Homo sapiens: one gene and its partners. The protein of the gene in region 1 purifies or fractionates together with the protein of each later gene. This does not show direct contact. Each region holds a gene or a part of one and is shown in the gene's direction. Other genes may lie near its edges. The genes, in order: SOCS7, CEP164, KIAA0232, XIRP1, CRYBG1, KBTBD8 and PTPN14.

Region 1 (3,500 bases):
TGGCTCCGATGGGGTCTTCCTTGCAGTCTTTCCCCCTACCTCCGCCTCCTCCACCCCATGCCCCAGGTTAGCTTAGTTTAGAGGCAAGACTTGTAAGAGTTGGGAGTACAAAGTGATACTTTCTACCATAGAAGGATGGGAGAAATCTATTTATGGAAATAACAGCTTAGTAGAAAGTTTAAATCTTTTCCCCTTGGCTGGACCAGACTCCTTAGAAATGAGGCGGAGAACTGGTTTTCCTAACCCGTTTTCTTTATGGAGGTCAATCTGATTTTTGTTAGGGATGAAAGACTACTGAATTTTTCATCAGTCTTTGCTGCTGAGACTGTTTTGCAATCCTTGAGTAGATATCACTTAAGAAACTGCCTTAATTTCAGGATAGTGAGGTTTAATATGTTGGTGGTTTTCAGCATTCTATGGTTTTTCTAAGCTTTTAGTATTTACTGCAGCCTTGTAAATAAGTACCAAGCATTTAGCAGCCCATACCTGCTTTGCCAGCTTACAGTACCCAAGGAATAAAATGAATGAAATCAGCATTCTTTTCTACTTGCCTGGCAAAATCATTACTCTTCCTGGGCAAGTAAGCGAGTCACTATTTCCAAGGCTGCCTTATCGGCACTTCACTTCGAGGTGGGAGAAGTTGGAATCGCTCTAGGCTGGTGAAGCCCCTGAAGTAGTCACCTTAGTAAGGTTAGTGAGCAGCTCCCCTCCCCCTTTCTTGGGGTCAAGTGCCCCCACCCATCCTTCACAGCTTACACAAGCCCACACAGCTTTTTGTTCCAGCCCATCCAGCTCTTTGCCACTGCTTTGGCTTCTACCCTTTCCAGCTTAGCTTCTAATGCCTTGCCCTCTTCAGTTAGCATCCTCTGTTTTTGGGGGAGGGTCTATTTGTGGTTGGGAGCAGTGAGGGTAAACAAGTGACCACCACTGTCTTGCCCTGCAGATGCATTTCCCCGGATTGCTCCCATCCGAGCAGCTGAATCCCTGCACAGCCAACCCCCACAGCACCTCCAGTGTCCCCTCTACCGGCCTGACTCGAGCAGCTTTGCAGCCAGCCTTCGAGAGTTGGAGAAGGTAGGTGGTACCTAAGGACTGGCAGGTCACTTCTCCTCCCATTAGCTAAATTCTGTATTCGGACACACCTTTATTTATGTGTTTATTTATTTTTAGAGACAGGGTCTGGCTCTGTTGCCCAGGCTAGGGTGTGGTGGCATAATCATAGCTCACTGTAGGCTCAAACTCCTGGGCCAAAGGATCCTTCTGCCTCAGCCTCCTGAGTAGCTAGGACTGCAGGCATGCACGACCAAGCCCAGCTAAAATTTATTTATATTTTTTGTAGAGACTGGTCTTGCAGTTTCCCAGGCTGGTCTTGAACTCCTGGGCTCAACGTGATCCTCTTGCCTCTGCCTCCCAAAGCTCTAGGATTATAGGCGTAAGCCACCACACCCAGCCCCTGTTTATTGTTTTCAGAGGAAGAATAGTTTACTTGCTTCCATATTTACAGTGACAAAACAGTGTGCTCCTGCTATTAGTTCCATGAGATGTAATAAAATTGAATTTGGGGAAAAAATTTGGACATGATAAAGGTTGTTGGAGAAATGTTTTACATAGTCTAAGCTGATTTTGATAGATTAACTGACCCAGTTCCCTCTTCTTTTCTTGGTAGGGTCTTTGGTAACAAAATTGTAGAATTATTATTCTTTGTTTTTTGTTGTTGTTGTTGTCTTGTTTTGTTTTTGAGACTGAGTTTCGCTCTTGTTGCCCAGGCTGGAGTGCAGTGGCGCAATCTCGGCTTACTGAAAACTCCGCCTCCTGGGTTCAAGCAATTCTCCTGCCTCAGTCTCCTGAGTAGCTGGTATTACAGGCGCCCACCACCATGCCCAGCTAATTACTGTATTTTTAGTAGAAATGGGGTTTCACCATGTTGGCCAGGCTGGTCTTGAACTCCTGACCTCAGGTGAGCCACCTGCCTTGGCCTCCCAAAGTGCTGGGATTACAGGTGTGAACCACTGCGCCCAGCCATTTTGTTTTTTGTTTTTTGTTTTTTTGACACAGAGTCTCACTGTGTAACCCAGGCTGGAGTACAGTGGCGCAATACCAGCTCACTGCAACCTCCACCTCCTGGGTTCAAGCGATTCTTCTGCCTCAGCCTCCTGAATAGCTGGGATTACAGGCATGTGCCACCAAACCCAGCTAATTTTTGTATTTTTAGTAGAGATGGGTTTTCACCATGTTGGCCAGGCTGGTCTCGAACTCCTGACCTCAAGTGATCCACCCGCCTCAGCCTCCCAAAGTGTTGGGATTACAGGCATGAGCCACAGCTCACGGCCAGAATTATTATTCTGTTACTTTGGAGGGCTAAAAGTATAGTGAGCCTGATGTTCATTGCTAATGGTTGAGACACTTGTAAGTGGCTTTTACCTATTGAAATATTTTGGAGAGAATGCAGAGGGTTCTCCCATGTTAAGATAGATTGCACTGAAAACTTTGACATTTCTCTGTCCTGATAACTAGTGGACTGCTTCTTGTCTTTGATAGTGTGGTTGGTATTGGGGGCCAATGAATTGGGAAGATGCAGAGATGAAGCTGAAAGGGAAACCAGATGGTTCTTTCCTGGTACGAGACAGTTCTGATCCTCGTTACATCCTGAGCCTCAGTTTCCGATCACAGGGTATCACCCACCACACTAGAATGGAGCACTACAGAGGTAAGAGATACTGGTAAGAGAGGCTTCTTCCCCCCTTGATTTGCTCTACCTTTGCTGTCTGACTTTTTTGTGGAAGAGATTCATAGGAATGGAACTACAAATAGGGGAAAAATTATCTTAGACTCAGTTGAATATTGATATGAGCGCTGATTTCCGTCACTAGAAGAAATGGAGGGGGTAGGGAAGGGAGAGTAAGGGTTCCATTTAAAAGTCTTGTCAGCAGCATCTTGTTTCCTAAATAGGAGGGCCTGAACAAAACTGTTGGAGAGGCTCCCGAGAAATGAGCCGGTAAAACTCTTTAGGTAAAAGGAAGAAAGAACCTAGGACCATTAGGCAAATTCTCACAAGCTTTGTTTGTAGTTAAACTTATCATCTAGAGATATTTTGTTAAATCACGTATACAAAGAGGGTGAATTTAGTGTTGATCCTGTAACTGTTCTGTTCTGAATTTCTTTCTTTTTTTTTTTTTGAGACAGAGTCTCGCTCTGTTGCCTAGGCTGGAGTGCAGTGGTGCGATCTCAGCTCACTGCAACCTCCGCCTCCTGGGTTCAAGTGATTCTTCTGCCTCAGCCTCCTATGTAGCTGGGATTACAGGCATGTGCCACCAGGCCTGGCTAATTTTTGTATTTTTAGTAGAAACAGTGTTTTATTCTGTTGGCCAGGCTGGTCTCAAACTCCTGACCTCAGGTGATCCACCCGCCTCGGCCTCCCAAAGGGCTTGGATTACAGGTGTGTCTGAATTTCTTTGTCTGATAGTCACTTTCTCCCAGGCAGCATGGTGATAATTTCCTCT
Region 2 (4,244 bases), on another chromosome or scaffold:
TTTAGTAGAGACGGGGTTTCATCATATTGGCCAGGCTGGTCTCGAACTCCTGACCTTAGGTGATCCACCCGCCTTGGCCTCCCAAAGTGCTGGGATTACAGGTGTGAGCCACTGTGCCTGGCAAAGTGCTAGGATTACAGATATGAGCCACCAGGCCCGGTCGATAGTTTTTGTTATCAGGTATTCATGCGTGAGAACCCTCTCTTCATGGTCTTCCCTGGCTCCATTTGTCAGGGTTTTAAAACAAATGACTCTATTTTGATTTTGATAATTTTCACAAGGAATATGCTCTGTATATTCCAACAATCTGAGTTTCTCATCCTGGAATCAGCCTCTGAGTGGCACTGGGACTATCCTGAGTCAGCTACATCTCTAGAACCTATCAGGAGCGGCTCTATGAGCTTGGCCTCATCATTTTCCTCCTCAACTAGCAGCATCTGTATTTGTCTGTTTCTCAGTTTTCCTATTGATGTAATGGCCAGAACTTTCTTTGCCCCTCTTAACTTCTCTAGGAGGTTGGAGACATATGAGAGAAAGGAAGATTTGCCCTCCGTGCAAGCAAAACTAAAACTCTTCGGAATTATATTAGTAGCAACCTTTCTGCCCGACAGGGTGTGTGGAGGAGCTACACATTGTGTCACTTTTTTTCTTCTTCAATAGACTCTTTGAAATAGTTATGACAGACATTACTATCCCCATCTTGCAGACATACAAACTGAACCCTGGGCTTTGGTGAAAAGATGGATAGTAGAAAATAGGTTTAACTCCTGGTCAGGTGCTCACTGGTTTAATAGGAGCACAGGAGAGCCAGTTTTTTTGCGGGGAGAGATGGGGAGTGGACGCGTCTCCATTACCTTACATTCACATTTGTTTTGTTGATTAAAGTAACAATGGGTTGATTATTGATGACCACTGTATTATTCACCTGATGTTAATCATACTCCTAACAAATGATCAATTAGATAATTAGATAATTCACATTAGTATAAATACTCTAAATAGTCCTTCTCTGTCCTGGCAGAAATCCTCACGTCTAAACTCGGGGTCCTCTTTTTTTTTTTTTTTTTTTTTTAGTAGAGAAGGGGTTTCACCATGTTGGTCAGGCTGGTCTCGAACTCCTGACCTCAGGTGACCCACCCGCCTCGGCCTCCCAAATTGCTGGAATTACAGGCGTGAGCCACCGCGCCCAGCCGATGAGGTTCTCTTTCAACCTCTTGCGGATTCCCATTATCTATCTTAAACTACACTCTTTCAACCTCTTGCGGATTCCCATTATCTATCTTAAACTACACTCCCATCGTGCAACGGAAAACGGACAGAGCTCCTGCGTGCACCGAAGGGACTTCGAGCCAATCCATTGTCACAGCTCTCAGCCGGCGACCTATTGGCTCCTGCTGGAGGCGGGACTCCCGGTTGCTAGGCGGTACCTTTTCCGGAAGTGTTTGTTGCGCGCTGCAGGGCAACACCCCGGCGTCCCTGGAAGCTGGGGGAGCGGGTGGGTGTTGGGTGGCGTTGGGGGAGCTGCGCCTCGCCCAGAGCCTCGCCCGGAGCCTCGCCCGGAGCCTTCCGGGGTGGGGGATAGTTGAGGACCTCATCGAGGGAGGGGTTGGGCGGCGGGGAAGGGAGCGAGCGTGGCGGGGGACCCGAGGCACGCTCTCGAGCCAACGAGCGTGATGCGCTCGAGTGTGGGCGGGGACTGAGGGAAGAAGTGAAAATCGGACTGCCAGGCGACAGTTCCTCCGTTTGAAATCTCGCCGGCTCCTGAGCGGGCCACCGGGCCCGGGCTGGGGGTCTGGCGGGTGAGTGAGCAGCGGGTCGGGACGCGGGAGAGGGGCACTGGGCACGGGGCCCTGGTTTGCTTGCTCTGTTCATCGTTGGCGAGTGAGGCCAGGCCTTCCGAAGCTTGCTGGGATACTTCTGTGGCAGGCTTCCCCCCGGGTCCAAATCCGGGGCTAGCCCAATCTTATGCCATCTTTGGCCAGCTGGGAAAGTTGGAAAGCTTTTTTGTTTTTTCCTTTTCTTGCATTGGATTTAAAAATGTCCCTCTACCTCTGGCACCGCTCTCCTCACTTGGCTTCAGCGACTCCCTGTCCGTTCTCCTAACTCAGTCCTTGGCAGTAGAAAGCTCCCTTCTACTCGGCGCACTCCATCTCTTGCGTTATCAGCTTTTCAGCGTTGACTCGCCAAACTACTCCAGCCAGACCTCTTTCCTGAGCTCAGACCTGCTTACTGTCATCGTCAGCCTTCCCCGGTCCCTCCGATCTGTTTCTCCTCTTGTATTTTTTTATCTCAATGAAGGGCTTCACCATTCACTCAGCCAAGTCTGTCCCTTTAATTTATTCATCTAATAAATACAGCAAACATTTGTCGGACATGCCCTGTCTTCTAGGCAGTGTAGTAGGTGGGGCTGCCTATTGGACGAGGCATAGAAATGAACACATCTAGAAATGATAGTCACAGTGTTCTGGCTTTAGTGCTCTGATTTCCCTCCTCTCTCCCGAAGTTCAAGTCCTGTATTCTGCCTCTTAATTCCCCTAGAATCTGGCGCTTCCTTTCCATCCTCACAGACACTGACTTAGTTCATAATTTCTTGCTTGTGCTTTCAGGATAACTTCCTAAGTGGTCTCTCTGCCTCAGTTCTTGTCCTCCTGTAATTAGTTCTTATGCAGCTGTCAGAATCATTTATTTATTTTAGAGACAGGGTCTTGGTATGTTGCCCAGGCTGGAGTGCAGTTGGTATTCACCGGTGTGACCCTAGTACACTGCAGCCTCGAACTCTTGCCCTCAAGCCATCCTCCCACCTCAGTCTCCTTAGTAGACGGGACTACAGGCATGCACCACTATTCTTGGCTAGAATCGTCTATCTGACCTACAGATCTGGTCATGCCAGTCTCCTTTGTGAAATCCTGTGATGGCCCCTCATCATTTACAGGATAGAGCCTCTGTTCTTCCAGGCCCTTTATAATATGCTCTTGCCTTTCATTCTAGAGCTCTGTCTTGCCACTCCTCCCACTGTCCCTTGCACTCTGGTCATGTCAGAATGGTTAAGAGTTTGGGCTTTGGAGTCAGACATGGATACTTACATATTCTGCTCTACCGTTTATTAGCTGTGACACCTTGGGCAAGTTTGTTTGTTTGTTTGTTTGTTTTGAAATAGAGTCTTGCTCTGTCGCCCAGGCTGGAGTGCAGTGGTGCGATCTTGGCTCACTGCAGTCTCAGTCTCCTGGGTTCAAGCGATTCTCCTGCCTCAGCTTCCCGAGTAGCTGGGACTACAGGTGGGCACCACAACTCCTGGCTAATTTTTTGTATTTTGGTAGAGACGGGGTTTCACCATGTTGGCCAGGCTGGTCAGGATCTCCTGACCTCATTATCCGCCCACCTCCGCCTCCCAAAGTGCTGGGATTACAGGCGTGAGCCACTGCGCCTGGCCTTTTTTTTTTTTTTTTTTTTTTTAACTTTGCTAAGCCTCAGTTTCCTTATTTGAAAAGTGAAGATAATTCTATTTTGCTGAGTGGATGAAGTGAGATGATGTATATAGAGCACTCAGTACAGTTCCTGTAACATAGGAAGTGTTCAGTGGCTATAAGCTTTTGTTGTCATAATTAATTCTTTGCACCCACCTTATGATTTTCTTCTTTTTTGCCTTTGTGCATGTTGTTCCTCTGCCGTGAATTCCCTTACTCCGCTTATCCTGGGGATCACCTGCTTATCCTTCAAGAACTATCTCAATTGTCCTCTGTGAGGCTTTCCCTGATCTTCCTAAGATTATTTGCCCTTACCTTTGTGTTCTGTTATATATTATGTTACTTCCTTTAATTCATGTAACACATTTTGTAGTCATGTGTTTACGTGTTTGGCTTTCCAGGTAGGCTGAGCTCAAGTTCAGGGCCATGTGTAATCAGGTTTGTAGCCCTAACACGTCGCACAATGTCTGGCCCATGGTGGGTGTTCAGTAAGTGATTACTTGGCGCGGTGACTCACGCCTGTAATCTCAGCACTTTGGGAGGCCAAGGCGGGCGGATCACCTGAGGTCAGGAGTTCGAGACTTGGCCAACATGGTGAAACCCCATCTCTACTAAAAATACAAAAATTAGCCGGGCGTGGTGGCAGGCGCCTGTAATCCTAGCTACTCGTGAGGCTGAGGCAGGAGCATCATTTGAACCTGGGAGGCAGAGGCTGCAGTGAGCAGAGATCGTGCCATTGCACCCCAGCCTGGGTGACAAGAATGATACTCTGTCTCAAAA
Region 3 (3,500 bases), on another chromosome or scaffold:
TGGTTTGGAGCTTAGAATTCAGAGATACCAGCATCACAATGCAGGCCCCTTGCAGTCTGGCCCCCAGTCATCTCTGTACTTTATCTTGTCCTCTTTGTCCCCTTTCCACACTGTCCAGCTAAACAAGACTGCTCTTGGTTCTCTGAACATGCCAAGCTATTTCAGACCTTCTTTGCTTATATTCTTTTCTCTTATTGGAATGTCCTGTCTCACTCCCACTCCCTCCAGTTCTTAAAAGTTCATATCAAATATTCTGTTCTCTCTGGAGTCCTTTGGAAGTCCTATTACAATGAATTATTCCTTTCCTCAATCATAGTTCTCTATTTTTCCTTCATTATTGTCTATATCATGTTGTATTATAAATTGGTCATAGTAAACTCTGGCTGTGGTGTCTATCCTATCATTTTGCCCCCAACACCTTGCTCAGGCGTTTAAACATAAGTGCTTAATGTTAAATGTAAGTGTTTAAATGTTTGCTAAATAAAGTCAAAGTCTGTAATCAACCTTAAAGAGTATGTTAATATTATAAAGTATATTTATTTTTATTTTTTCTGACCCTGGCTTAAGTCTGCAAATAAAGTTTGTTTGTTTTTGAGACAGCATCTTGCTTTGTCACCCAGGCTTGGAGTGCGGTGGTGTGATCGTGGCTCACTGTAGCCTCAACCTCCCAGGCTCAAGTGATCCTCCCACCTCAGCCTCCTGAGTAGCTGGGACCACGGGCATGCACCACCATGCTCAGCTAATTAAAACAATTTGTTTTTTTGTAGAAACGGGTCTCCCTGTGTTGCCCAGGCTGATCTCGAACTCCTGGGCTCAAGCAATCCTCCCACCTCAACCTCCCAAAGTGCTGGGATTACAAGCATGAGCCACCGCACAAGACCCAGATGAAGTATTTTTAATAAACATCGGTGCCCACAACAACATTAGAAATGTAGTTTTACTATGTTGAATATAGTTACTATTTAGAATATTTCTTTACAGTTATTTTTGGTCTTTCACATAATCACATAAGTGGTATTTTATACAAAGTAAAAACTGTCATCTTTCCCATTTGTATCTAAACTTGTAGGGTCTAATGAAATAGATGAAGTGCCTGCATTGCTGACTGTGAATCACCGACCCATTTTTTGGGCAGAGGGAACCAGAGCACAAGGTTAAAAATATTCCTTGTATTGGCCGGGCGCGGTGGCTCACGCCTGTAATTCCAGCACCTTGGGAGGCCGAGGCGGGCGGATCATGAGGTCAAGAGAGTGAGACCATCCTGGCCAACATGGTGAAACCCCATCTCTACTAAAAATACAAAAATTATCCGGGCATGGTGGAGCACGCCTATAGTCCCAGCTACTTGGGAGGCTGAGGCAGTAGAATCTCTTGAACCCGGGAGGTGGAGGTTGCAGTGAACCAAGATCACACCACTGGACTCCAGCCTGGCGACAGAGCAAGGCTCTCTCAAAAAAAAAAAAAAAAAAAAAAAATCCTTATATTTGAAGTATAATTTAATTCCCAAGAGATTACATGCTTTTTCTTTAAAAGTTTTCTTTTTTAGAAATTTATTATATGCATCAAAAGCAATTGCGTTTGAGGGGGCTTCTTAAAAGAATATTAGAACTGGATTTGAAAGACTCAGGTTTGCTTCTTGGCCGTGAACAAGTTTGTTAAATCCCTTTGGAAGTCAGTCAGTCTTTATTTGGGAACTGAGAACGGTTATTCCTGTTGCTTTGTAGTACATTTAAAGAGGCTATGCTTTGTGTACTGCACATCCTTACACAGATACAAGGTAATCAGATGTTTTGCTTTATAGCATTTTTGTCCTACTTGTTACCCAGCCTGGAAACCTTTAGAGACTTCCTTTCTTGACCAGATTTTTACCAGGTTTGCCTCCATGAGTCTTTTCCATCAGTCTTTTTCTTTACTCTTTCATGTTTCCTCTGCCCCTACCCTCCCTGAAGCTCTTACTCCTTATGAAGATAGTTACTGTAGTCCTCCAACTGGCCTCTCTTTTTTCTGGTCTCTCCTCCTCTGTTCTGTTGCCAGAATTATTTAATAGGCAAATCAAATCATATCATGACCCATTTCCCAAGTATACACCAGAGGTTCTCAACATTTCCCTCTATTCCATCACACCTGAGGGATACGACAGTTTTGTTGGTAAGGTTATGGGCTTTCTCCTCCCAAGATTTTTACCTTGGAAGTGCTACCACACTCCTCCCCTGGTTGAGAATTAATGTTAAAGAGTTAGGAAATCACTGTAAGATCTTTGCTATCTAGCCTCATTCTTACTTTTAGCTTAATCTTTTATTGGATCTCTTCTTTTTCGTTTTTGTGTTTTTGAGACAGGGTCTTACTCTGTCACTCATGCTGGAGTGCAGCGGTGCCATCTTGGCTCACTGCAACTTCCACCTCCCTTCCTCCTGCTGCCTTGGCCTCCTGAGTAGCTGGGACTACAGGCACATAACGCCTGGCTAATTTTTTGTAGAGATGGGGTTTTGCTCTGTTGCCTAGACTGGCTTCAAACTCCTGGGCTCAAGTAATCTGCCCGCCTTGGCCTCCGAAAGTGCCGAGATTATAAGCACGAGCCACCACGCCCAGCCTGCATCTCTTCTTGTCACCTTATATTTCAACACAAGACCTCTGGCCACTTCCGTTATTGGCAGACTACTCTGAAATATCCTTTCCACCTTTCTCTCTCTTTCTGAGTCTTGGAGTCTTGGCTTAAATGCTGCTACTTCTATTTCTGTAACCTGATTTTCAGAATTAACTCATTATTTTTCTCCCACACAGTGCTAGCCTGATACCTCTACTTATCTATTTTTTCCTTATGACTTTTTAGTTTATATACATGAAGGTCTTTCCTGGATTATAAACTCCTTGAGAGATGTAGAGGAAAATCTTAATCATTTCTGATTTCCTCTAGTGTGCAATATAGTCTTTTACATAGTACTCATTTGTTAAATGTTTGACTGAATTAACTCAAAATTTACAGTCTCTGATTTCAGGAGGAGGAGGATAGAGTTGGAATAACTTTGTATGAGAACTTAGTGAATCCACGTGACACACTCAGAACAGGGCCCAGCATATAGTAAGTGCTCAGTAAGTGGCAGCTTTTAGCTATTAATTTGAATAGGTGGAGACGACACTAGTGGTTGGATACACTGGTTAATTGTATATGCTAGTTTATTATGACAGTGTTCACATATTTATTTCTGGTGTGTGTGTAAAGAAAAAAATCTCATTTTCTTTCTTTTTTTTTTATTTTTATTTTGAGACAGAATCTCGCTCTGTCGCCCAGGCTCGAGTGCAGTGGCGCGATCTCGGCTCACTGCCAACTCCACCTCCTGGGTTCACGCCATTCTCCTGCCTCAGCTTCCCGAGTAGCTGGGACTACAGGCGCCCGACCACAACGCCCGGCTAATTTTTTGTATTTTTAGTAGAGACTGGGTTTCACCGTGTTAGCCAGGATGGTTTTTATCTCCTGACCTCGTGGTCTGCCCGCTTTGGCC
Region 4 (3,440 bases), on another chromosome or scaffold:
AGGAGTCTCTAAGCGTAAGTCACCCAGAGCTACTCTGACTCTGAGCCCTGTTTACTACCATTTCTCCCAGCATCCAGCCTCTACCCTGCTGAACATCTAGATCTAAGGCTCCCAATCCCATCCTCATCTCTGCCCCTTCTTCTCAGAAGGATGGCCGACACCCAGACACAGGTGGCCCCCACACCAACCATGAGGATGGCAACTGCAGAGGACCTGCCCCTCCCTCCACCCCCAGCCCTGGAGGACCTGCCACTGCCGCCACCCAAGGAATCCTTCTCCAAGTTCCATCAGCAGCGGCAAGCTAGTGAGCTCCGCCGCCTCTACAGGCACATCCACCCTGAGCTCCGCAAGAATCTGGCTGAGGCTGTGGCCGAGGATCTGGCTGAGGTCCTGGGCTCTGAGGAACCCACCGAGGGTGACGTTCAGTGCATGCGCTGGATCTTTGAGAACTGGAGACTGGATGCCATTGGAGAACACGAGAGGCCAGCTGCCAAGGAGCCCGTGCTGTGTGGTGACGTCCAGGCCACCTCCCGCAAGTTTGAGGAAGGCTCCTTTGCCAACAGCACAGACCAGGAGCCAACCAGGCCCCAGCCAGGTGGAGGAGACGTTCGTGCAGCCCGCTGGCTATTTGAGACAAAGCCACTGGACGAGCTGACAGGGCAAGCCAAGGAACTGGAGGCCACTGTGAGGGAGCCTGCAGCCAGCGGAGATGTGCAGGGTACCAGGATGCTCTTTGAGACGCGGCCGCTGGACCGCCTGGGCTCCCGCCCCTCCCTGCAGGAGCAGAGCCCCTTGGAACTGCGCTCAGAGATCCAGGAGCTGAAGGGTGATGTGAAAAAGACAGTGAAGCTCTTCCAAACGGAGCCCCTGTGTGCCATCCAGGATGCAGAGGGCGCCATCCATGAGGTCAAGGCCGCATGCCGGGAGGAGATCCAAAGCAACGCGGTGAGGTCTGCCCGCTGGCTCTTTGAGACCCGGCCTCTGGACGCCATCAACCAGGACCCCAGCCAGGTGCGGGTGATCCGGGGGATTTCCCTGGAGGAGGGGGCCCGGCCCGACGTCAGTGCAACTCGCTGGATCTTTGAGACACAGCCCCTGGATGCCATCCGGGAGATCTTGGTAGATGAGAAGGACTTCCAGCCATCCCCAGACCTTATCCCACCTGGTCCAGATGTTCAGCAGCAGCAGCATCTGTTTGAGACCCGAGCGCTGGACACTCTGAAGGGGGACGAAGAGGCTGGAGCAGAGGCCCCACCCAAGGAGGAAGTGGTCCCTGGTGATGTCCGCTCCACCCTGTGGCTATTTGAAACAAAGCCCCTGGATGCTTTCAGAGACAAGGTCCAAGTGGGTCACCTACAGCGAGTGGATCCCCAGGACGGTGAGGGGCATCTATCCAGTGACAGCTCCTCAGCACTGCCCTTCTCTCAGAGTGCCCCCCAGAGGGATGAGCTAAAGGGGGATGTGAAGACTTTTAAGAACCTTTTTGAGACCCTTCCCTTGGACAGCATTGGACAGGGTGAGGTTCTGGCCCATGGGAGTCCAAGCAGAGAAGAAGGAACTGATTCTGCTGGGCAGGCCCAGGGCATAGGGTCCCCAGTGTATGCCATGCAGGACAGCAAGGGCCGCCTCCATGCCCTGACCTCTGTTAGCAGAGAGCAGATAGTCGGAGGTGATGTGCAGGGCTACAGGTGGATGTTTGAGACACAGCCCCTAGACCAGCTCGGCCGAAGCCCCAGTACCATCGACGTGGTGCGGGGCATCACCCGGCAGGAAGTGGTGGCTGGGGACGTTGGCACAGCTCGGTGGCTTTTTGAGACCCAGCCCCTGGAGATGATCCACCAACGGGAGCAGCAGGAACGACAGAAAGAAGAAGGGAAGAGTCAGGGAGACCCCCAGCCTGAGGCACCCCCAAAGGGCGATGTGCAGACCATCCGGTGGTTGTTCGAGACTTGCCCAATGAGTGAGTTGGCCGAAAAGCAGGGGTCAGAGGTCACAGATCCCACAGCCAAGGCTGAGGCACAGTCCTGCACCTGGATGTTCAAGCCCCAACCTGTGGACAGGCCAGTGGGCTCCAGGGAGCAGCACCTGCAGGTTAGCCAGGTCCCGGCTGGGGAAAGACAGACAGACAGACACGTCTTTGAGACCGAGCCTCTTCAGGCCTCAGGCCGTCCCTGTGGAAGACGGCCTGTGAGATACTGCAGCCGCGTGGAGATCCCTTCAGGGCAGGTGTCTCGTCAGAAAGAGGTTTTTCAGGCCCTGGAGGCAGGCAAGAAGGAAGAACAGGAGCCCCGGGTAATCGCTGGGTCCATCCCCGCGGGTTCTGTCCACAAGTTCACTTGGCTTTTTGAGAATTGTCCCATGGGCTCCCTGGCAGCTGAGAGCATCCAAGGGGGCAACCTCCTGGAAGAGCAGCCCATGAGCCCCTCAGGCAACAGGATGCAAGAGAGCCAGGAGACTGCAGCTGAGGGGACCCTGCGGACTCTGCATGCCACACCTGGCATCCTGCACCATGGAGGCATCCTCATGGAGGCCCGAGGGCCAGGGGAGCTCTGTCTTGCCAAGTATGTGCTCTCGGGCACAGGGCAGGGGCACCCTTATATACGAAAGGAGGAGCTGGTGTCAGGTGAACTTCCCAGGATCATCTGCCAAGTCCTGCGCCGGCCAGATGTGGACCAGCAGGGGCTGCTGGTGCAGGAAGACCCAACTGGCCAGCTCCAACTCAAGCCGCTGAGGCTGCCAACTCCAGGCAGCAGTGGGAATATTGAAGACATGGACCCTGAGCTCCAGCAGCTGCTGGCTTGCGGTCTTGGGACCTCCGTGGCAAGGACTGGGCTGGTGATGCAGGAGACAGAGCAGGGCCTGGTCGCACTGACTGCCTACTCTCTGCAGCCCCGGCTAACTAGCAAGGCCTCTGAGAGGAGCAGCGTGCAGCTGTTGGCCAGCTGCATAGATAAAGGAGACCTGAGTGGCCTGCACAGTCTGCGGTGGGAGCCCCCGGCTGACCCGAGTCCAGTGCCAGCCAGCGAGGGGGCCCAGAGCCTGCACCCAACTGAGAGCATCATCCATGTTCCCCCACTGGACCCCAGCATGGGGATGGGGCATCTGAGAGCCTCAGGGGCCACCCCTTGCCCTCCTCAGGCCATTGGAAAGGCAGTCCCTCTGGCTGGGGAAGCTGCAGCACCAGCCCAATTGCAAAACACAGAAAAGCAGGAAGACAGTCACTCTGGACAGAAAGGGATGGCAGTCTTGGGAAAGTCAGAAGGAGCCACGACTACCCCTCCGGGGCCTGGGGCCCCAGACCTCCTGGCCGCCATGCAGAGTCTGCGGATGGCAACAGCTGAAGCCCAGAGCCTGCACCAGCAAGTTCTGAACAAGCACAAGCAGGGCCCCACCCCAACAGCCACTTCCAACCCCATCCAGGACGGTCTTCGGAAAGCTGG
Region 5 (3,500 bases), on another chromosome or scaffold:
CTTCTCACACTTCTGCTCCCTCACCACTCCCACTTAGCACAGGTGAATAATGATTAAGTGCTTAAGTTTTTCCTCCATTCACATATTTGTTCAAGGAGTGGGTATTTTAACAACATTATCATTATAATTCTTGAACCTAATGGTTTCTTTCATTCTATTTGATTTCTTGGATAAGTAAGCTTAAGAGGAGGAGAGTTCTGATTGGGAGAACTCTGAGAACTCTGAGAGGGAAGTATGCGTAATGAATAACTTGACTACCTCACCAACTGCCAACCTGGAGACCTTTGATATAGTCAGTGATTTATTCTGTGATGGTAGGTAGCATCAGAGAAATGAGCTGGGTGAATGATGCCTATTATTTATAGAAGACCAGTGTGATTGAATGCTAAAGCCTCCTAAATGTGAGCCTTAGAGAAACATTGCTGTGTACCTTATGAAGGATGGTTCACCTGTCTTCCAATTAGAAGACACCAGTAGAAAAACCAGAAATGTTACACTGTGAAATAGTAGGCTAAACAAACAGGAAAGATGATCTTATAATGAAATTCTTCGTTTGCTGTTCTCTGTAATAGAACTAAACCAAATATGTCTTTCCCAGTTCTGATTAATTTATACCTAAAAATTTTCTTTACCAGACATTCAATGTATTTGTTTTGCGCAGTGCCTTGCACATGGTCATTTGGCAAATTATTGACTTAAAAATTAATAAGTATTTCTAGTCCTTTGACCCATTTCTTTGTGACTGATGGTTTTTTCAGACCCTTTAATTCTTCCTATGACCGTATCGCAAGATGTTAATCAGATTATTCTTTAAAACAATTTGAGACTGAAGAGTAAGAAAAACTATTTCGTATTTCCTGAAAAATGACACTGAAGTAGCATGTTCCTTTATGCTGTTAGAAAAATTATTACTTCAAGTTCTCTACCAAGTGCTGAATGTTGAAATTCTTAAAATGGTATATGTAGAATAAGGAGAATTTTCCTCTTATAATATAACTATGGCTTTTTGGACTCCAAATTATTTTCCCCTGTCTCATAATGAAGGCATTACAACATGAATTATAGGAGCCTTCCTTTTAATCAGTCTGAAGTAGGTTAATTGTAGTAACTCTTGGTAGCACAACTTAATAGCACAGAAAGTTTGGTTGTAAAATTTATTCTGATCTTCGTGTAAATCTTTAATGTGCAGATACGTGTTTCCTGTCCTTAAGGTAGCCTGTTGGCTAACCTGTAGTGTTTTCTATTTACATCATAAGATATACTTCGATGTTTGAATTGAGTACCCTTCCTTGAAATGATTAGTGAGAATTTTTAAAAAGTATATTCTCTGGTATGTGACCATCCCTCATTAACTGATAGCAAATTGAAGCTCTCTATTTCTAATCATCTCACTAGTTTCATAATTTGATCTTTGAGGAAATGCTTATAAATTAATTTTCCTTTTAAATTTAAGGTATGGGCCTGCAATAAGGGAGCCTAAGTATCTTATGGAGATATTGGGGAAAGCAATGCCTGGGAGAAATTTATGAGCAGAGATCAAATTTATTTATTTATTTATTTATTTATTTATTTATTTATTTATTTATTTATTTTTGAGACAGGATCTCACTCTGTTACCCAGGCTGGAGTGCAGTGGCATGATCATGGCTCACTGCAGTCTCGACCTCCCCCGGCTCAGGTGATCCTCCCACCTCAGCCTCCCTAGTAGCAGGGACTACAGGCGCACCACCATGTCTGGCTAATTTTTGTATTTTTTTAGAGACAGGATTTTGCCATGTTCCCCGGGCTGGTCTCAAACTCCTGGGTTCAAGTGATCCACCTGCCTCGGCCTCCCAAAGTGCTAGGATTACAGGCATCAGCCACTGATCCCAGCCTCAAATTTAGTATCAAGTAAAATTTGTAAAAATTAAAATCTGAATTCTCAGTGCTGCTTTTGGAGAGAATATTTTATCCAGAAGGATAAGTTGACTCACCAGCAGTCATACTGCCTGTCCCTTCTAGAAGCTCCTTAGGCCCAAGCTTCTTTTTTTTTTTTTAGACAGAGTCTCACTCTGTCGCCCAGGCTGGAGTGTAGTGGCACAATCTTGGCTCACTGCAACCTCCACCTCCCAGGTTTAAGCAATTCTCCTGCCTCAGCCTCCCAAGTAGCTGGGATTATAGGCCTGTGCCACCACACCTGGCTAATTTTTGTATTTTTAGTAGAGACAGGGTTTCACCATGTTGGCCAGGCTGGTCTGGAACTCCTGACCTGAAGTGATCCACCCGCTTTGGCCTCCCAAAGTGTAGGGATTACAAGCATGAGCCACCACACCCAGCCAGGCTCAAGCTTCATGAAGGCCAAGTCCATGAAGGAGAGGCAGTATGGGATTTCAGTGTCTCCACTTGTGTGTTCTCATTATCAAAGTGGCCTCTAAAGTCTATGTTATGTTATGGATCTCATGATAATTCACTGACTTTAAATGATAAAGATGGAAAGAACCAGAGGAGCTCATTCAGGCGGGTATAGTCCAAGCCTATCTGGGGAACCAGAATAGTATAGTGGTTGGGAGCATGGCATCTGAAGCCAGAGCACCTCACTTCAAACTGTGGCCCTGTCACTTATCAGCTGCATAACCTCAGGGAGTTACTTCTCAACACTTCAACTTCCTCAGCCAAAAATAGAATGTATAAAGTCGTATATTAATTAAGTAAGCCCGATGAAGCATTTGTCAAGGGCTTGACAATCACTGATTGTTAGTGGTTATGCTTTATCTCTCCCGTTTTATAAACCACTGGACTAATGGTTTAGACTTTTTTTTTTTTTTTTTTTTTGAGACAGAGTCTCACTTTGTCACCCAAGCTGGAGTGCAGTGGCATGACCATAGCTCACTGCAGCCTTGATCTTCTGGACTCAAGTGATCTCCCACCTCTGCCTTTGGAATAGCTGGGACTACAGGCACGCACCACTTCACCTGGCTAATTTTTTTGTTTGTTTTGTAGAGACTGGGTCTCAGTATGTTGCCCAGGCTGGTCTTGAACCCCTTGGCTCAAGCAATCCTCCCTCCTTGACCTCCCAAAGTACTGGAATATATATATACATATATATATACACACACACACACATATATATATACACATATATATATACACACACATATATATATACACATATATACACACACACATATACACACATATATATATATACACACACACATATATACACATATATATACACACACACATATATATACACACATATATATATACACACACACATATATATATACACACACACACACATATATATATATACACACACACATATATATAAGCTTTGGAATCCTTTCTTCTAAGAAAGTTTAAATAGGAGCAATAAATAAAACAGATACTAGGAGTGATTCTGCTTGAAAGGAGAGTGGACAGCCCCATCCTCATCCCTACTTTCCCCAACTGCAGCCCTTGAAGAGAACCCCAGGGATTCCTTCAACCATAAGTTGGGGGAAATAAAAACAACTCTG
Region 6 (3,500 bases), on another chromosome or scaffold:
CCTTATTATTGCAAAAATTATGAAATTTAATTACAAAGAGTTTGGAAGTATGGTCTTCAAGTTTCACCTTCACTGCTGTTTATGTTGCCTTTCATAATACATTTTCAATTTTTTTCACCGGAAAACTTTGAGATGTCCCTTTTTTTTGGTTTGCCATTTTAAGTGGGACTATCTGATATATGTAGTGTTTGTTTTGTTTTGTTTTCTGTTTGTTTTTTTAACTGTTAAGGACTACTACTTTGGCAAAAATACAGTAGAGGTAGAGTGACTGAGTCAGAGTAAATAAGACATTTGATTCAAGGCTCTGATTTGTGATAACTATTTTCCTTTTATTTGGTTTCTTACACATTTTAGTTGCTTGAATGTTTAATGCAGTGTAGATAATAGCAACATCCTTATTCCTCGTATGTGTCTCTTAATTGATGTTTTTCTCACACTACTACTTAAGGAAAAGGAGCAGCTTCTATGAAGATATACAGTCATGTGCCATGTAATGTTTTGGTCAATGATGGATCACATACACAATGGTGGTCCTATAAGATTATGATAGCATATTTTTACTGTACTTGTTCCATGTTTAGATATGTTTAGATACAAAAATGCTTCCCATTGTGTTACAGTTGCCTAGAGTACTCAGTACAGTCACATGCTGTACAGTTTTGTAGCCTAGGTGTGTAGTAAGCTCCCATCTAGGTTTGTGTAAGTATGCTCTATGATGTTCTTCCCACAAGGACAACTATCACTTAATGATGCATTTCTCAGAATATGTCCCTGTCATTAATTGATGCATGACTGCCCTTATCCCATTGTTTTCTTTCTTTCTTCTTTCCCCTCCCCCTTCCCCTTCCCTTCTTTTCTTTCATTTCTTTCTTTCTCTTTTTTTTTTTGAGGCAGGGTCTCACTCTGTCACCCAGGCTGGAGTGCAGTGGCATGATCTTGGCTGACTTCAACCTCCGCCTCCTGGGTTCACATGATTCTTCCACCTCAGTCTCAGGCATCTGCCACCATGCCTGGCTAATTTTTTTATTTTTGGTAGAGTCGGCGTTTCACTATGTTGACCAGGCTGGTCTTGAACTCCTGACCTGCAGTGATCCACCCACCTTGGCCTCCCACCATTGTTTTCTTTTAAAAATTGTGTTCCTTGCTCTAATCCTTTATTTAACTAAAAATTTCCTAGTAATATCTGAGCTCATTTGTTTAAGTTCAGTGTCAAGTTAATTCCTCAGAAGGAGTTGTACTCTCTGGTTCCTTATTTTAGTTAAATAGAAGCACAGGCCATGATTTGGGTTTGCTGTCTTGTGGAAAAATGGAATATAAGAATGGATGTATGATCCGTCCAGTATACTTGGATAGGTTATGTCATCCAGTATGATGAAGCTGTCTGTGTATGTGTGTATTTTGGTCTTACTGCCTAACTGTTAGTTGGTAGAGGTAGAATTAGATTCCTATTTGGAATGTGAAGTTTGTATATTAATGCAAATACTAAAGCAAACTAGCAATGAATTAATAGAATTTCAGGGCTGGAATTATTAACATCATTTAATTTGAGGTTATATTTTATATAAGAGGACTCTGAAGCCCTAAGGGTTTCTTAATTGCATATTATTAGCTTTAACTTTTATTAAAGAGTACTTTAGATTTTAACATTCAACTTCTTTGGTGTGTCGTCTTTACTTTCTTATCTATAAGAAATTTATAGAGAAGTAGCACACATTACAAAGTTTAAATTTCCTACCTTATTTATCGAGAATCCTGTTACAAGTTAGGCAATAAGGGCAGATGATGTGCGAGCAAATCTGGGAGCTTTACAAGCTATTTTAAGTTAGTTGAAGGCAAAGCATCACTGTTACGAAGTACGTAGTTGAATTTGTAGATAAGAGTAACCCTAGTTCAAAACAGTTTTCAAGGGGAAGCTCAATTTAGAATCTGGTATTTCTAATCTAAACAAAGCCTCTTTACATAAATAAACCTGACATGCATAGTCAGAAGCTTATGTTGTACTATCTGTGGCTATTGAAGTATCATTTAATCTGTTCATAAAGTGTTCAGATTTTTATTACAAAGATTTTAAACAAATGCTATAATTAGCAAAACTATTGTAAATCTTCACTACTTTAATTCTTTCAGACATTTTCATATTGGCAGTCTGACTCAGCATACCTTTTTATTATCAAATCAAAATAGAAACTGACTCAAAGTCAACATCACAAACCATGTATGTGTTTTCTATCTTATTAAAGTCATGTTTTCTCCTGCTGAATATTTCTCTTTGCATTATAGCAACATTCAGGTAAGCACATCAGTGACCCATAAGCATAAATCTGCACAATTCCATCTGCTGTCTTCTAATTAAATAGCATACACATTTATCATGGCATATTTATGATGATGTTACATGTATGCATTTTGGTCTTACTGGCTGAACGTTACTAATAATGCTTTTTTAGAGCTAGAGTAAAATGAATTTTCTATAAACACACAAATTGGATAGAGCAAATAGAATCAAGTTTGTGTTTTTTTTTTTTTTTTTGAGATGGAGTCTCACATTGTTACCCAGGCTGGAGTGCAGTGGCGTGATCTTGGCTCACTGCATCCTTCACCTCCTGGGTTCAAGTGATTCTCCTGCCTTAGCCTCCTGAGTAGCTGGAATTACAGGTGCCTGCCACCACACCTGGCTAATTTTTGTATTTTTAATGGAGATGGGGTTTCACCATGTTGGCCAGGCTGGTCTCAAACTCCTGACCTCAAGTAATCCACCCGTCTCAGCCTCCCAAAGTGCTGGGATTACAGGCGTGAGCCACTGTGCCTGGCCAGAATCAAGCTCTTAACAATTCTGCCATCAAGCCCAAGTAACTCCTTGTACCTTCCCAATACAAACCTCCCAATTCAGGTTGATTATAATATTATCTGTTATATTGTGTCATGGAATGACAAAGTTTTAAGGTATTTTGTAACCCATATGAATGTATCTCTGGAGATTATAAAAGAAATGTTTTAGAAAGTGAAATATATAGCAAATTATGCCCTTTAATCTTTAGAGGTTGTAGTTACAACATATAACCAAAAACCAAACATAAAAATTTACATATTCTTGTTTTCTTTTTTTTTTTTTTAGGAGAATTTTTTCTCTTCTATGAGCCTCAAAAAGACTACTGGGGTTTCTTAACCCCCATGACTGTGCCTAGAATCCAGGGCTTAGCAGCTGTATACAAGGACTCTATCTACTACATAGCTGGAACCTGTGGAAATCATCAACGTATGTTTACTGTAGAAGCCTATGATATTGAGCTAAATAAATGGACTCGTAAGAAAGACTTTCCATGTGATCAGTCCATAAATCCATACCTTAAACTGGTACTTTTCCAGAACAAACTCCATTTATTTGTTCGAGCTACTCAAGTGACTGTTGAAGAACACGTCTTCAGAACCAGCAGAAAAAATTCCCTTTACCAATATGATGACATTGCTGACCAGTGGATGAAAGTGTATGAGACCCCAGA
Region 7 (2,202 bases), on another chromosome or scaffold:
TAAAACAATGATGACAGCAGTACTTAATATGTATTTCGAGGTGAACTTATATAGATTGAGAGAGGCTGCATTTGGCAGACTGATGTATAGGAAGACCCATTTGTTTCTAGCTTCTCCCTGCAGGGAAAATGCTTTCGTCATTATAGCCTCTTTACACAGACTGGCCATTCTAGTGAAACAGGTGGTAAACCTTTGGGCTGCCCAGAAACATTTTATCTGTTTTCACTTACCTAGGAAGGGGAAAGATTAGCGGGTCATCCAAAATCTGTATGTAAGCTATCTTCATTTTCTTCCCCAACCTTCTCCTCCTGGGAAACACAAATGCTATCTCATCTGACAAAAGGTTTTAGAGGATAAAGCTGAAAAGATTGGATTGGGATCTTTTTGTGGCTTGGGGCGGAGCCTTTTGCTAAAATCTCAAGAATGCTGCTTTGAGTTTAGCTAGGGTGGCTCTCAGAACTGGGGTGCCTGGCATTCTCAGCATTTCTCAGGGGCCTCCCACCTCTGACAACTGCAGTGTTAGCTAATACATACCTTGAGCATAGAACTGAATGCTGTAATTCAGAGCCATTTTTTTTTTCAACTTGAACATTGTACAATTTTACTGCAATTTCCTTTGAACTTTCTTGCCACTGTTTGGAATCTTAAAAATTCATTAGCCTTCTCCTTTCTGACATAAAGCTACTCTTCATCAGAGATGAGTTCCTATGTATGTCCTTTGTTCCTTCAATAGCTAATTAATGTGCTTGAGGATACTTCAGTGGAAAAAAAGGTTTAAATATGCAAATTACTAATAAATGTGTAACCTTATGTAACTTGTGTTACATCAAGTAACAAGCTAATCTAGTTTGTTTCACTGGACTAGGCTTGTGCTCCCTACTTCAGTATTTTGATGCTTTCCTTGATCTTTGTTTCACAAAATGTTGTGAATTTTGGTATCATTCAAAACAAATGACATTTATTAGGTTTCATTTTGAAACGATGTACAGACAAGTCCCCAACTTAGAAACCGGTTTGTTCTTAAGGTTCTTGCGTCAGCCCATAGAAGCCCACTGACCTCCACCACAGCCCAAATGGAGGGCTGTGATAGCCAGATCTGGTTGGCTTTTGTGGGCTGACCCAGACATTTAATCACCATCTCTTATGTTGTTGCCGTAAGAAATGCATTCCAGGTTGGGACTTGGGATCCTGAGAGCACATTCGCCCCCTGTGGTGGCCGCTTGCCACCTTGCAAGATGGAAGCCCAGTCTCCTTACTACCAAACTGTAGTTGTAAGCAGAGGGAGGGGTGAGATGTTTATAGGACATTCCCTAAGCTGGGGAGTGATTTTTATCACTATTCATGTCAACTGTACTTTGGTATAGACTCCCTATCAATTTAATAATATGAAAAGCCTAAAATAAAACTATGCATGCTATTCTATGTGCTATTTTATATCAGTAAATAAGCTTATGCTTGCCAGTTGTATACACAGTTATGAGGTGTATAGAACTGACTTTGACAGTATTTTTTGCACTGTTTCCTATCTGTTTTTATAAAGTCTTATTTAGATATTGGACCTTGTTGATGTTCTCACTGCCCTTGTGCTTGCTATAAAATGTTTCATATGTGCCTTTACAAATGTGAGATCTTTATTCTAACCTTTTTTTGTAAAAGATATCTATTGATTTCCATATGCAATAAACCTTTTTTTCAGAGAAAAGTTACATCTTCTCTTTTCTGTACTGTATATGTTTGCATTAGTTGAAAGTGCCTGGGAAAACCTGCATGCTTTGTTTTCTAAAGCCCATTTATTGCTACCCAGTTTTTAGTCCTGCATAACCTTATCATACTGAAGATTTAGTTTGAAATTCCCAAGGTTGTCACTGTTAGAAGAAACCTGAAAGGGGTGATCACTAGGCAAGTGGAGTGAAGAATACATAGAAATGGGTCTTTCTCACAAATGCAGCAATAAGCCTCGTTAAGCTCCAAGCCCCTACTCACTCCTCCTTCACTGTCATTTACTCAGGTACCAAACTGTTGATGTGGAAAAGGCAGGCACCAACCAGGCTGCTGTAGAAAATTTAAATTCTTGCTTTTGCCTTTCAGCTTTATAACAGCTCAACTTGTGTCCAGGTTTAAAGGTGGCTGTCCTGTCCCAGACTTTCAGCCAGTAACCACCATAGCACATTCACGGTGAACCCCTCATATGTGGGTAGATGC

The links.
Region 2: the proteins of SOCS7 (region 1) and CEP164 purify together in Homo sapiens (affinity purification with mass spectrometry; one large-scale study listed by BioGRID and IntAct). This does not show direct contact.
Region 3: the proteins of SOCS7 (region 1) and KIAA0232 purify together in Homo sapiens (affinity purification with mass spectrometry; one large-scale study listed by BioGRID and IntAct). This does not show direct contact.
Region 4: the proteins of SOCS7 (region 1) and XIRP1 purify together in Homo sapiens (affinity purification with mass spectrometry; one large-scale study listed by BioGRID and IntAct). This does not show direct contact.
Region 5: the proteins of SOCS7 (region 1) and CRYBG1 purify together in Homo sapiens (affinity purification with mass spectrometry; one large-scale study listed by BioGRID and IntAct). This does not show direct contact.
Region 6: the proteins of SOCS7 (region 1) and KBTBD8 purify together in Homo sapiens (affinity purification with mass spectrometry; one large-scale study listed by BioGRID and IntAct). This does not show direct contact.
Region 7: the proteins of SOCS7 (region 1) and PTPN14 purify together in Homo sapiens (affinity purification with western blotting, with the first as the bait; one study listed by BioGRID). This does not show direct contact.

Annotation. Positions count from the first base shown.
Region 1 is NC_000017.11:38,365,344-38,368,843, forward strand, and holds part of SOCS7 (suppressor of cytokine signaling 7), read left to right. Parts: coding exon 1-66; intron 67-498; exon of another isoform or gene 499-690; intron 691-943; coding exon 944-1,074; intron 1,075-2,538; coding exon 2,539-2,707; intron 2,708-3,500. UniProt on the Homo sapiens protein: Substrate-recognition component of a cullin-5-RING E3 ubiquitin-protein ligase complex (ECS complex, also named CRL5 complex), which mediates the ubiquitination and subsequent proteasomal degradation of target proteins, such as DAB1 and IRS1.
Region 2 is NC_000011.10:117,326,410-117,330,653, forward strand, and holds the start of CEP164 (centrosomal protein of 164 kDa), read left to right. Parts: upstream 1-1,444; 5' UTR 1,445-1,495; exon of another isoform or gene 1,496-1,799; intron 1,800-4,244. UniProt on the Homo sapiens protein: Plays a role in microtubule organization and/or maintenance for the formation of primary cilia (PC), a microtubule-based structure that protrudes from the surface of epithelial cells. Plays a critical role in G2/M checkpoint and nuclear divisions.
Region 3 is NC_000004.12:6,785,727-6,789,226, forward strand, and holds part of KIAA0232 (uncharacterized protein KIAA0232), read left to right. Parts: intron 1-3,500.
Region 4 is NC_000003.12:39,186,156-39,189,595, reverse strand, and holds part of XIRP1 (xin actin-binding repeat-containing protein 1), read left to right. Parts: intron 1-70; 5' UTR 71-150; coding exon 151-3,440. UniProt on the Homo sapiens protein: Protects actin filaments from depolymerization. Required for correct cardiac intercalated disk ultrastructure via maintenance of cell-cell adhesion stability, and as a result maintains cardiac organ morphology, conductance and heart beat rhythm.
Region 5 is NC_000006.12:106,514,217-106,517,716, forward strand, and holds part of CRYBG1 (beta/gamma crystallin domain-containing protein 1), read left to right. Parts: intron 1-3,500. UniProt on the Homo sapiens protein: May function as suppressor of malignant melanoma. It may exert its effects through interactions with the cytoskeleton.
Region 6 is NC_000003.12:67,004,807-67,008,306, forward strand, and holds part of KBTBD8 (kelch repeat and BTB domain-containing protein 8), read left to right. Parts: intron 1-3,115; coding exon 3,116-3,500. UniProt on the Homo sapiens protein: Substrate-specific adapter of a BCR (BTB-CUL3-RBX1) E3 ubiquitin ligase complex that acts as a regulator of neural crest specification.
Region 7 is NC_000001.11:214,348,200-214,350,401, reverse strand, and holds the end of PTPN14 (tyrosine-protein phosphatase non-receptor type 14), read left to right. Parts: 3' UTR 1-1,702; downstream 1,703-2,202. UniProt on the Homo sapiens protein: Protein tyrosine phosphatase which may play a role in the regulation of lymphangiogenesis, cell-cell adhesion, cell-matrix adhesion, cell migration, cell growth and also regulates TGF-beta gene expression, thereby modulating epithelial-mesenchymal transition.